Regions from separate parts of the Homo sapiens genome. Here region 2 is linked to region 1. The links come from fine-mapping of genetic effects on gene expression. Tissue or cell type: whole blood. Region 1 holds a variant in brackets; the other region holds the start of a gene. All regions are shown on one strand. Distances are from middle to middle.

Region 1 (5,232 bases):
GTGCTGGGATTACAGGCATGAGCCACTGTGCCTGGTCACACTTGCCATATTCTAAAATCCTTTTTGGTTTTGTGTATTTTCTGCTACTCAATGCATGACTTATCTTTTTGACCATTTATGAATATTCCTTTACTTTTGTCAAAAAACCTTGTCATAAATTGAAAAAAATTATTGTACTTTGTTACATTTACTTTGTTGCATTCATTGAAAGTAATTTCAATAGCATTATTTGCTGTCACTCTTACTGAGCAGAACATAAGTATGACATGCATATTTACATGTCATATTAGTGGCCTGTGCAGCCTGGTTTTATGCCCTAACAACCCAGTTTAATGCCTTGTCAATGACAACATATTTGCCCTGTGTAATGACTTTAGAATGTAAGAAAGTACCCCAAATTTTGTTTATAATTTATATCTAGACCTAGGTTTTTTTTTTGGTGAGGGGGGTAGGGGGTCAGTGTCTCACTCCATCGCCCATCATAGCTCACTGCAGCCTCAACCCCCTGGGCTCAGGTGACCCTCCCACCTCAGCCTCTTAAGTAACTGGGACTACAGGTGTACACCACCACACCCAGCTAATTTTTAGTAGAGATGGTGTTTCACCATGTCGGCCAGTCTTAAACTCCTGGGCTTAAACAATCTTCCTGCCTTGGCCTCCCAGAGTGCTGGGATTACAGGCGTGAGCTACTGTGCCCATCCTAGACCTAGTTTTTAACCTGTTTACTCAAACTCCCTCTTAAAACACACAGAATAATTAATTCTAAAACTACTTATTTCATATTTGTCATAGTCTGCTTGGGCTGCCATAACAAAATATCATAGACTAGGTGGCTTAAACAACTGACATTTATCTTCTCACAGTTATGGAGACTGAAAGCCTAGGTGTGTAGCTGCTTTCTGGTGAGGGCCCTCTTTCTGGCTTGCAGATAGTTGCCACCTTGCTGTGTCTTCACATGGTAGAAACAGTAAGAGTTCTGTGGTGTCTCTTCTTAAAGGAAGAAGAACCAATTCTGTTAGATCAGGGCTCCATCCTTATGACCTCTAAATGTTTGTGCCCTCCCAAAATTTATATGTTGAAACCTAATCCCCATTGCGTTGGTATGAAGAGGTGGGGCCTTGGAGAGGTGATTCGGCCATAAAGGTTTTTTCTCATGAATGGGATTAGCACCATTATAAAGGAGGCTTGAGAGAGCTTGTTTGCTCAACTTCCACCATGTGAAGACAGCAAGAAGGCACCATCTTTGAAGCAGAAAGTGAACCCTCACCAGATTCTGAATCCCCTGGGGCCTTCATCTTGGACTTTCCAGCCTCCAGAATTGTGAGCAGTAAATTTCTGTTGTTTATACATTTTCCAGCCTAAGATATTTTGGTGTAGCACCCCAGATGGACTAAGACAACCTTCATAAAGGGCCTATATCCAAACAGTCATACTGGAGCTTAGGGTTTGAACATACAAATTTTGGGGTGAACAGTTTAGCCCATAGCAATGTTCAGTAGGGCATACTTCTTTTGTTCTAGGATTTGTGAAGACACTGATGCACAGTCAGTGTTGTCTGTGAATATAAACCATATTCTTTTAGCTGTTGTCTTTATATGCTAAAGAGTCCTGCCATTCTCCTGCCTCAGCCTCCCGAGTAGCTGGGACTGCAGGCGCCCGCCATCACACCCGGCCAATTTTTTGTATTTTTAGTAGAGATGGGGTTTCACCGTGTTAGCCAGGATGGTCTCGATCTCCTGACCTCGTGATCCGCCCGCCTCAGCCTCCCAAAGTGCTGGGATTACAGGCGTGAGCCACCATGCACAGCGAGTCCCACTATTTTTAGTTTTCCGTGTGTAAAAACTCAGTCATGTTAGCTGCCCTTTTTGATTATTCTTTGTTCATTTATATCTCTCTTAAAGTGGTGAGAATTACATATTTCAGATAAGGATTTTATTTCATATTGCATTGTTGGGAGCAAGCCCCTCAAAGTCTGGCCATAAACTGGCCCCAAAACTGGCCATAAATAAAATCTCTGCAGCACTGTAACATGTCTATAATGGCCCTAACGCCCAAGCTGGAAGGTTGTGGGTTTATGGGAATGAGGGCAAGGAACACCTGGCCCGCCCAGGGCAGAAAACCGCTTAAAGGCATTCTTTAGACACAAACTAAAGCATGAGCAATCTGTGTCTTTAAGGGCATGTTCCTGCTGCAGTTAAATAGCCCAACCTATTCATTTAATTCGGCCCAGATCACCTGAGGTCAGAAGTTCGAGACCAGCCTGGCCAACATGATGAAACCCCTTCTCTACTAAAAATACAAAAATTAGCCAGTCGTAGCAAGCACCTGTAATCCCAGCTACTCAGGAGGCTGAGGCAGGAGAATCACTTGAACCCAAGAGGCGGAGGTTGCAGTGAGCCAAGATCATGCCACTGCACTCCAGCCTGGGCAACAAGAGCAAAATGCCATCTCAAAAAAAAAAAAAAAGAATTTCTTTTAATATTTCTTGCAAGACAGGTCTACTGGTGACAGAATCCCTTAATTTTTGTTTGCCTGAGAAAATCTTTAGTACTTTTTAAGGATAATTTTGCTTGATACACAGCTCTAAATTAGTGGCTTTTTGCTTTAAA[T/C]GCCTTAACTATTTCAGTCCTCTCTATCCTTGCTTGCATGGTTTCTGAGGAAGGAAAAAAGAGTGTTAGAGAAGGAATGTGTGTTTTTTTTTTTTTTTTTGGAGAAGGAATTTTAAAATGTAAAAGAAAACCTTGGATTTTTCTTTTTTTTTTTTTTTTAAGATAAGAGTCTTGCTCTGTTGCCCAGACTGGAGTGCAGTGGTGTGATCCTAGCTCACTGCAGCTTCAGGCTCAAGCAGTCCTCCTGCCTCAGCCTCCAGAGTAGCTGAGACTACAGACACCCACCACCATGCTTGACTAACTTAAAAAAATATATATATATTTTGGTAGAGATGGGTCTTGCTATGTTGCCCAGGCTGGTTTTGAACTCCTTGCCTCAAGGGAACCTCCTGCCTTGGCCTCCCAAAATGCTGGGATTATGCCATGAGCCACCATGCCTGGCCTAATATTTCTTATTCTTTATTGAGGGAACATATAACAGTTTATTCAAAATAATGACAGCAGCCGGGCACGGTGGCTCACGCCTGTAATCCCAGCACTTTGGGAGGCCATGGCGGGTGGATCACCTGAGGTCAGGAGTTCAAGACCAGCCTGGCCGACATGGTGAAACCTTGTCTCTACAAAAATACAAAAATTAGACAGGCATGATGGTGGGTGCCTGTAATTCCAGCTGCTTGGGAGGCTGAGACGGGAGAATTGCTTGAATCTGGGAGGCGGAGGTTGCAGTGAGCTGAGATTGCGCCATTGCACTCCAGCCTGGGCAACAGAGCGAGACTCCATCTCAAAACACAAACAAAAAAAGTAATGACAGCAACAATTTATTTGATTATGTATGCTTATGTATAAATATATGCTAAGGCATGCTTACATATATAAATGGTAGCAATGATACAGGGGAAGAAATGGCAGAATTAGAATTGTTATTATAAGGGTTTTTTAAAATCACAAATTGGATTTGGATTAGTTTAAATGTATATTGTAAACTCTAGGGCAACTACTAAAAACAGTTAAAAGAAATATAATATGCTAAGAAGGCAAAGTGGAATAATATAAAATGCCTGTTTAAAACCACAGAAGGCAGATAAAGAGTGAAAGACAAAATGGAAACAAAGAAGAAGGCAACAAATAGAAAACACTAACATATATGGTAGATATTAATCCAACTATATCAGTAATCACTTTGAATGTCAGTGGTCTAAATGCACTGTTAAAAAGATGGAGATTATCAGAGTGGATCAAAAAATATGACCCAACTATATGTTGTCTATAATAAAAGCACTTTAAATATAAAGAGACATATAGGTTAAAAGTAAATGGATGGAGAAAGATATACCATGCTAACACTAACAAAAAAAAGACCTAGCTGTATTAATGTCAGACAGAGCTGACTTCAAAGCAAGGAATGTTAGGACATTACGCCTGTAATCCCAGCACTTTGGGAGGCCGAGATGAGTGCATCATTTGAGGTCGGGAGTTCAAGACCAGTCTGACCAACATGGAGAAACCCTGTTTCTACTAAAAATACAAAATTAGCCAGGCGTGGTGGTGCATGCCTGTAATCCCAGCTACTCAGGAAGGCTCAGGCAGGAGAATCGCTTGAATCTAGGAGGCGGAGGTTGCGGTGAGCCGAGATCATGCCACTGCACTCCAGCTTGGGCAACAAGAGTGAAACTCGGTCTCAAAAAAAAAAAAAAAAAAAAAAAAAAAGAAGGACATTACATAATAATAAAGGGGTCAGTTCTTCAAGAAGACGTAACAGTCCTTAAAATGTATGCATCTAACAACAGAATGTAAAAATACGCAAGTCAAAACCTGGTAGAACTGCATGGAGAAACAAATGGATTCAATATTATTAGTCGGGAAATTCAACGCCCTCCTATCGAAAATGGACAGATCCAGCAGGCAGAAAATTAGTAAGGACATTGTTGAGCTCTGCAATACCATCAATCAACTGGATATAATGGACATCTATAGACTACTTCAACAACAGCAGAAGATACATTCTTCTCAAGCTCACATGGAACATTCACAAAGATAGACCACACCCAGGCCCATAAAGCACACCTTAACAAATTTAAAATAATATAAATCATACAGTGTGCTCTCAAACCACAGTGAAATTAAACTAGAAATCAATAACAGAAAGATAGCTGGAAAGTCCCTAGTTACTTAGAGATTAAACAACACACTTGTGAATAACACGGATAAAAGAAGCGGTCTCGGGAAACTTTGAAATATTTGGAACTAAATGAAAATGCAGTAACATCAGAAACATAAAATGTCTAGGATTAAATGTAAAAAAAATTGCAAGGATGCTGGGTGCAGTGGCTCACACCTGTAATCCCAGCACTTTGGGAGCCAAGGTGGGAGAATTGCTTGAGCCCAGGAATGCGAGACCAGCCTGGGCAATATAGTGAGACCTTTTCTACAAAAAAAAAAAAAAAAAAAAATTAAAAATTAGCCAGGCATGGTGGAGCACACCTGTAATCCTAGCTACATCAGAGGCTGGGGTGGGGGGATCCTTTGAGCCCAGGAGACAGAGGTTGCAGTGACCCGAGATTGTGCCGCTGTACATCAGCCTGGGCGGCAGAATGAGAGACTCGGTCTCCAAAAATAATAATAA
Region 2 (5,113 bases), 54 kb after region 1:
GGTTGTGAGAAAACTAAAGAGAACAGGTCTTAAGCTATGTTTAACCTTAACTTTGTGCTGATTTGACAACAAGGAAGGCATTTTGGCCAGAGTAAATTTTTTAAAACTCTTTCCAGCGGGACCTCAGAGAATCATTTCCAAATAGATGAGAAGTTCCTTCCTACTTTAATAAAACTCCGGAATTCTTCCCCCTCTCTTGCTGTCTCATCCTTTACCTTCTGGATTTAGGTGCTTTTTAATTCCAGTTCAGGAAAGATAGGAAGAGTAGAATTTCCCCACAGCAACCTTGCTCCTGACATTGGGGATTCCGCCCCTGATCTCTGAAGACTGCTTCTTGTTTGTTCCTCTGTGAGCCTTAAGGATTCCTCCACAGCTGGATGTGCAGAACAATTCTTTGTCAAAAACATCACTTTTCAGCTCTATGTCCAATTTTCCTTGAGCTGTCTGTGTCTTCAAGCAATCAATAGTCTCCTTATGCCCAACCACAATCTATTCTGCTTTAAGACGTAGCCTCTTGTTTGGTTCTCTCTAAACATGTACTGTTAACTGTTGAGCATCCTCATAAGATCCCTCTTAGACTAAAAGACAGTCATGCAATTTTAATTTTCCCTTATCCATTTATTTTTTTAATCTGATTTTCTGTATTTGCCCACGGCCAGTACTTGTGGAGAGTTTAAAATTTTATAAATTAAAATTCCATTTAAATTAAGCATTTTGTCGCATGTTCTCTGTACCAGGCACCATACTGAATTTGAATTGAAGGGTAAATAAAAATAATTCCTGCCCTCAGGAGGCTCACACTTAGCTGTGGGAGAGAGACATGTGTACAGCTGTCAAATTTAGCAGTCTGAAAAGTTTTGGTGGAACAGTACACACTAGGTAATGTGGGAGCAAGAGGGAGAGGGAGGTCAGAAAGGCTTTGACACATGAGGAGCAGTTCATGGAGCAGGGAAAAGGGAATGGCATCCATGCAGCTAGAATGCTACATAAAGGCACAGAGGTGTGAAAATGTAAGAGAAGGCTGGAGAATTGCATTTTTATTCTCTAATCAGGTTAATATTCCTGTTCACCAAGAAAGCTTTTAGCTAGCATATAACCCTCTTAGGTAATTGGAATTTGGGGGGCTATTTAATAGGAAACTTTTTCCTAGAGATGATATTTACCGTTGAAAACACGTAGCTCAGTATCAACTGGACTTACACCATATGTTCACTGACATTCTGCAGCAGGAAGGTCAGCGGCTCTAGAGCACCAACAAGAAGGTATCCAGAGAGAGCCCAGATTGGGCTGGGAGAATGGGTGAGTGTCAACTGGACTTACACCATGTGTTCACTGACATTCTGCAGCAGGAAGGTCAGCGGCTCTAGAGCACCAACAAGAAGGTATCCAGAGAGAGCCCAGATTGGGCTGGGAGAATGGGTGAGTGTCAACTGGACTTACACCATGTGTTCACTGACATTCTGCAGCAGGAAGGTCAGCGGCTCTAGAGCACCAACAAGAAGGTATCCAGAGAGAGCCCAGATTGGGCTGGGAGAATGGGTGAGAGAATGGGGACTCAGGGTCTTGTTAAAGGCAGAGCACAGGTTCTGAGAAGTTGGAAAGGGTTAGATGGGAGTGTGTGTGTGCAGGGGGATGTTGGAGCCTGGAAAATACCAACCATTTGTCTTTTACACTCTAAAGGTAGTTGTGCTCCCCAAGTGAATAAGGTGGGACATGTGCACGTCAGGTTTTCAGTGTGAAACCTGGTATATTTCCAAATGAAAGTGATTGGATTCAGGTGACCATTTAAATTATGTCTATGAAAAAAGAAAATAGACTTGGGGCCTTGATAAGCCTTTAGCTAGGGAAGTAGGAAAAAGACTCAAATGTCTGGGTTGGAGGGAAGACTCCTGTACTCAGTCTCAGATTGTTTTCCTTATTCACTTGCTTCAGAATAATCCAGGCTGCAAACTATTGGGACCCACCCCAGAACTACTGAATCACGATCTCTGAGGGTGGAATTCAGGAATGATGATAATTTCTCCAGGATATAGGGATTTTCCTTAGAGGGAAAAATAATTTGACCACAGGCCGTCCCAGCTCCTACCTCCGGACCTGGAGCTCGTGATTCCCAGGCTCTCATTCCGGTCTGCGGTGGCCGGCTCACCTGGCCTGTCTACCTGCGGGCGTGGCGGGGTTGGAGAGGGGAGCGGGACCCGCGACCCCGCCCCGTGGCCCGGCCGGAGCCCCGCCCCTCGGGGGCGGGTGGGGAGAGCTGCCGCGGCCGAGGCCCGCCCCAACCTTGGCTGCGCCAATCAGGCACTGCGATCTCAGACGTCGGGTTACGCGCGGCGCGGAGTCGGCGGCCGGGCGGAGGTACCGGCTCAGGCTTGGGATCCCGGCTGCGGGTTTGGCGGCGCTGCGCCGGCAGGCAGCGAGGCCGGGCGGGCCCTGGGCCCTCGCGCCCCTCCCGCGAGGCCTGTCATGCAGGGCCCCGCCGGGAACGCGAGCCGGGGACTGCCAGGCGGGCCGCCCTCCACAGTCGCGTCCGGGGCGGGCCGCTGCGAGAGCGGCGCGCTCATGCACAGCTTCGGCATCTTCCTGCAGGGGCTGCTCGGCGTCGTGGCCTTCAGCACGTTAATGCGTGAGTCTGGGACCCCCCGACCCTCCGGAGGCCCTGCGCGGCAGCCGCGGCCCGGCCCCCCTGGGGGCCCCTCCTGCGCGGAGAGTTCAGGCCTTGGGACCCGAATTGCTCCTCCCCCGCAAACCCAGGCTGGGTATTCCTGCACTAGGGGTAGCCCGAGCCCCTCACCTACTCGCTGTGGCCTCCAGACAGGAGTGACCCTTCCCCTTTCCACCTTAAACGTCTGTCTTTTGAGACGCCAGTCTAAAACTCGCCTACCTCCCACCTTACCATCTCGAATTGTTACCCCACTTCCCAGCCTGGAATCATGACCCCCAAGGGTGACATCCCCTTGTCCGCCCCTTCTCAGGGGCTCTTCGTGCTTAGAACCCACATCCCTCAATCCCCAGTGCGATGCTGAGCTCTTTTCTGCCCCTTCACTCTTCAAGGATCTGCCTTCTCCGTTCACATTTAAATCCTGCTACTTTGCATCCCTCTCAACACCTGGAGTGTTAGGGCCATGCCTTCCGTTTCCCAGTACCCGCCTCCCTCTCCGTGGCCCTTCTTCCTCAGCTTTAGTTTCCCTTTTGTCAGGGTAGGACCCACCCAGTCTGCCTTCTTCCCCAGATCCCCTTCCTCTCGTTTCTTCCGGAACAGGCCCACCTGTTCCATCTCTGTCCCAAGCTTTCCTAATAAGCCGCATCTATAGCTTCCCCTGGCTGTTCCCTTTCCACTTTTATTCTTTATATTTTAAGTTTCCTTTTCCATTAAACTTGGGCACCTTAGTGGCTGAATAGAGAAGGAAGCCCCCACCCTGTTCTCATGTGTGCTGATGGGGGGTGGGGGGGGGCTTCTGTTTTTCATCGTGTGCATCCTTCCCTTATTAAAGTAACAAGAAGTTTTGCTCGACATGTAAGCCTAGGAGTGCCCTTGTGACTGCGTTTTAGGGGGAAGGAAAGGTTATAACTATCTGTGCAGAGTCATTAATTCCAAAAATGACTTGTTCTCAAAACTTCCCCACTGTGCTTGTGTGGACAGAGTGGAGAGTTCCTGCAGAAAGTATGCTTTGGGGTACTCAGGAGGGATCTTGCAGCTGTGTGCCTTTGTCTTGTGGGGTCCAGTTGCTGGAGTGGCCACCTTGCTTGTTTATAACTTGGGGTTTCTTTGAGTGAATTCTCTCAGGCTTTAAGTAACCCTGAAGAGGCTCTGATCATGGATACCGCGTTCTTCTGGTGGCCTGTCCTTGATAAGTCTTATAAGTGCCCAACTGTCTATGTTTGCCACTTTTTCTTTCCTTTTTAGTCCCAACTTGCCTTGCTTTTTCTCTGCTAAACAAATACCCACTTGTTCCCACAGTAATAATTTGTGACAACTTAGCCAAAATCCGCTGCTGACTTGGGCGCATGTACTGTACGTGTGTGTTTTCAAGACATGGTGAGTGGATCTTCATACCCCTCCTACTTCTCTGTCCTCCAGACAGCCTTCCTTTCTCTCTGAAGGAAGTGTAGGTTAAATTTTTCTTTTGCTCCCTAACCTGAGGTTTCTTAGCCTAGCTCTGGCTGTTTCCATAGGTTTGATTGATGCTGATGGCCCGGCTTGTCCCCTAGGGTTTGACACTTGTGATTCAGAGAAGGAAATGTGATGATGACAGGGCAGAGTTGCTCACAGCTGAGAAGTGTATCGGGTTGAATGTGTTCTGAGTGGAGTCTTCAGGGACATATTCACTTCTTTACTTAATCTTCAGCGTGAGCACATGTGCAAATCCCACTGTGGTTGGTACTTTCTGTGTGCAGAGATTGAACTAGAAAGCAGTCTCTTGTTCACTGTGAGGCTTGACGTGGACGGAGCTTGTGGAAATGGCTGGTGGGTCCTGGGGTGATGTGGGTAGGAGTGATGGGGAGAAGAGCTGGAAAGGCTAGAGCTATGTCTGCCCTGACACAGAAATGGAGGTGAGAGCAAGAGCCTCCTCCCCCTACCTAGAAGCAGACAGAGCAGGCCAGGGCAATGGTACTCTGGGAGCTGGACAAGAAGAAGCCCACTGACTGGGATGCAGTCAGGGTGGGGCCCTTCTTATCTCTCAGATTTCTTGGTCCTGTTGAAATAGAACTGCGAGGCTTTTCCTTCTTGAACTACTGGGAAGAGGAAGAAATCTCTAAGGTGGAAGAGGAACGAGATCAAGGTAGCCTTAAGGAAGTACATCTGCGAGCCATTTGGCTTTGTCCTGGGCTATTAGTCCTCCGTCCTTCTCAGTCTGGCGGAGCTGCCAGGAGGGGCATCTGTTGAAGGCCAGGCTCCCCTGACGAGGGTCCCCCTCGCAGCCCTGAGGGAGGGAAGTCTTAGTGTGTGTTAAGGTGAGGCCACTCCATCCTTCCTCAGTTCTGTTATCTTCAAACATTTTAAATACCAACCAGTCTGTTCTGAGCAGTTTAAACAGCCGTTGTCCTTTGAGGGGCTGTTTTTGAGATCACAGTCTTTTCCCTTCTGAGTACCCGTGGCCCTCGAGGCAATGGG

The links. PIP is the estimated chance that this variant, and not a neighbour inherited with it, causes the effect.
Region 2: STIMATE starts here. The variant in region 1 is fine-mapped to the expression of STIMATE in whole blood (TOPMed, PIP 0.92).

Annotation. Positions count from the first base shown.
Region 1 is chr3:52,948,653-52,953,884 of GRCh38, reverse strand. The region is part of intron 3 of SFMBT1 (Scm like with four mbt domains 1); the gene reads left to right. Among named protein-coding and RNA genes, the nearest start is that of STIMATE-MUSTN1, 54 kb to the right of the region's middle. The variant T/C (reference allele first, on the strand shown) is at 2,610.
Region 2 is chr3:52,894,801-52,899,913 of GRCh38, reverse strand. STIMATE (STIM activating enhancer) reads left to right here and starts at 2,366. Exons shown (of 8, transcript NM_198563.5): 1 at 2,366-2,623. The coding sequence starts at 2,464. STIMATE-MUSTN1 (STIMATE-MUSTN1 readthrough) reads left to right here and starts at 2,366. Exons shown (of 10, transcript NM_001198974.3): 1 at 2,366-2,623. The coding sequence starts at 2,464. RefSeq lists a silencer at 2,104-2,813.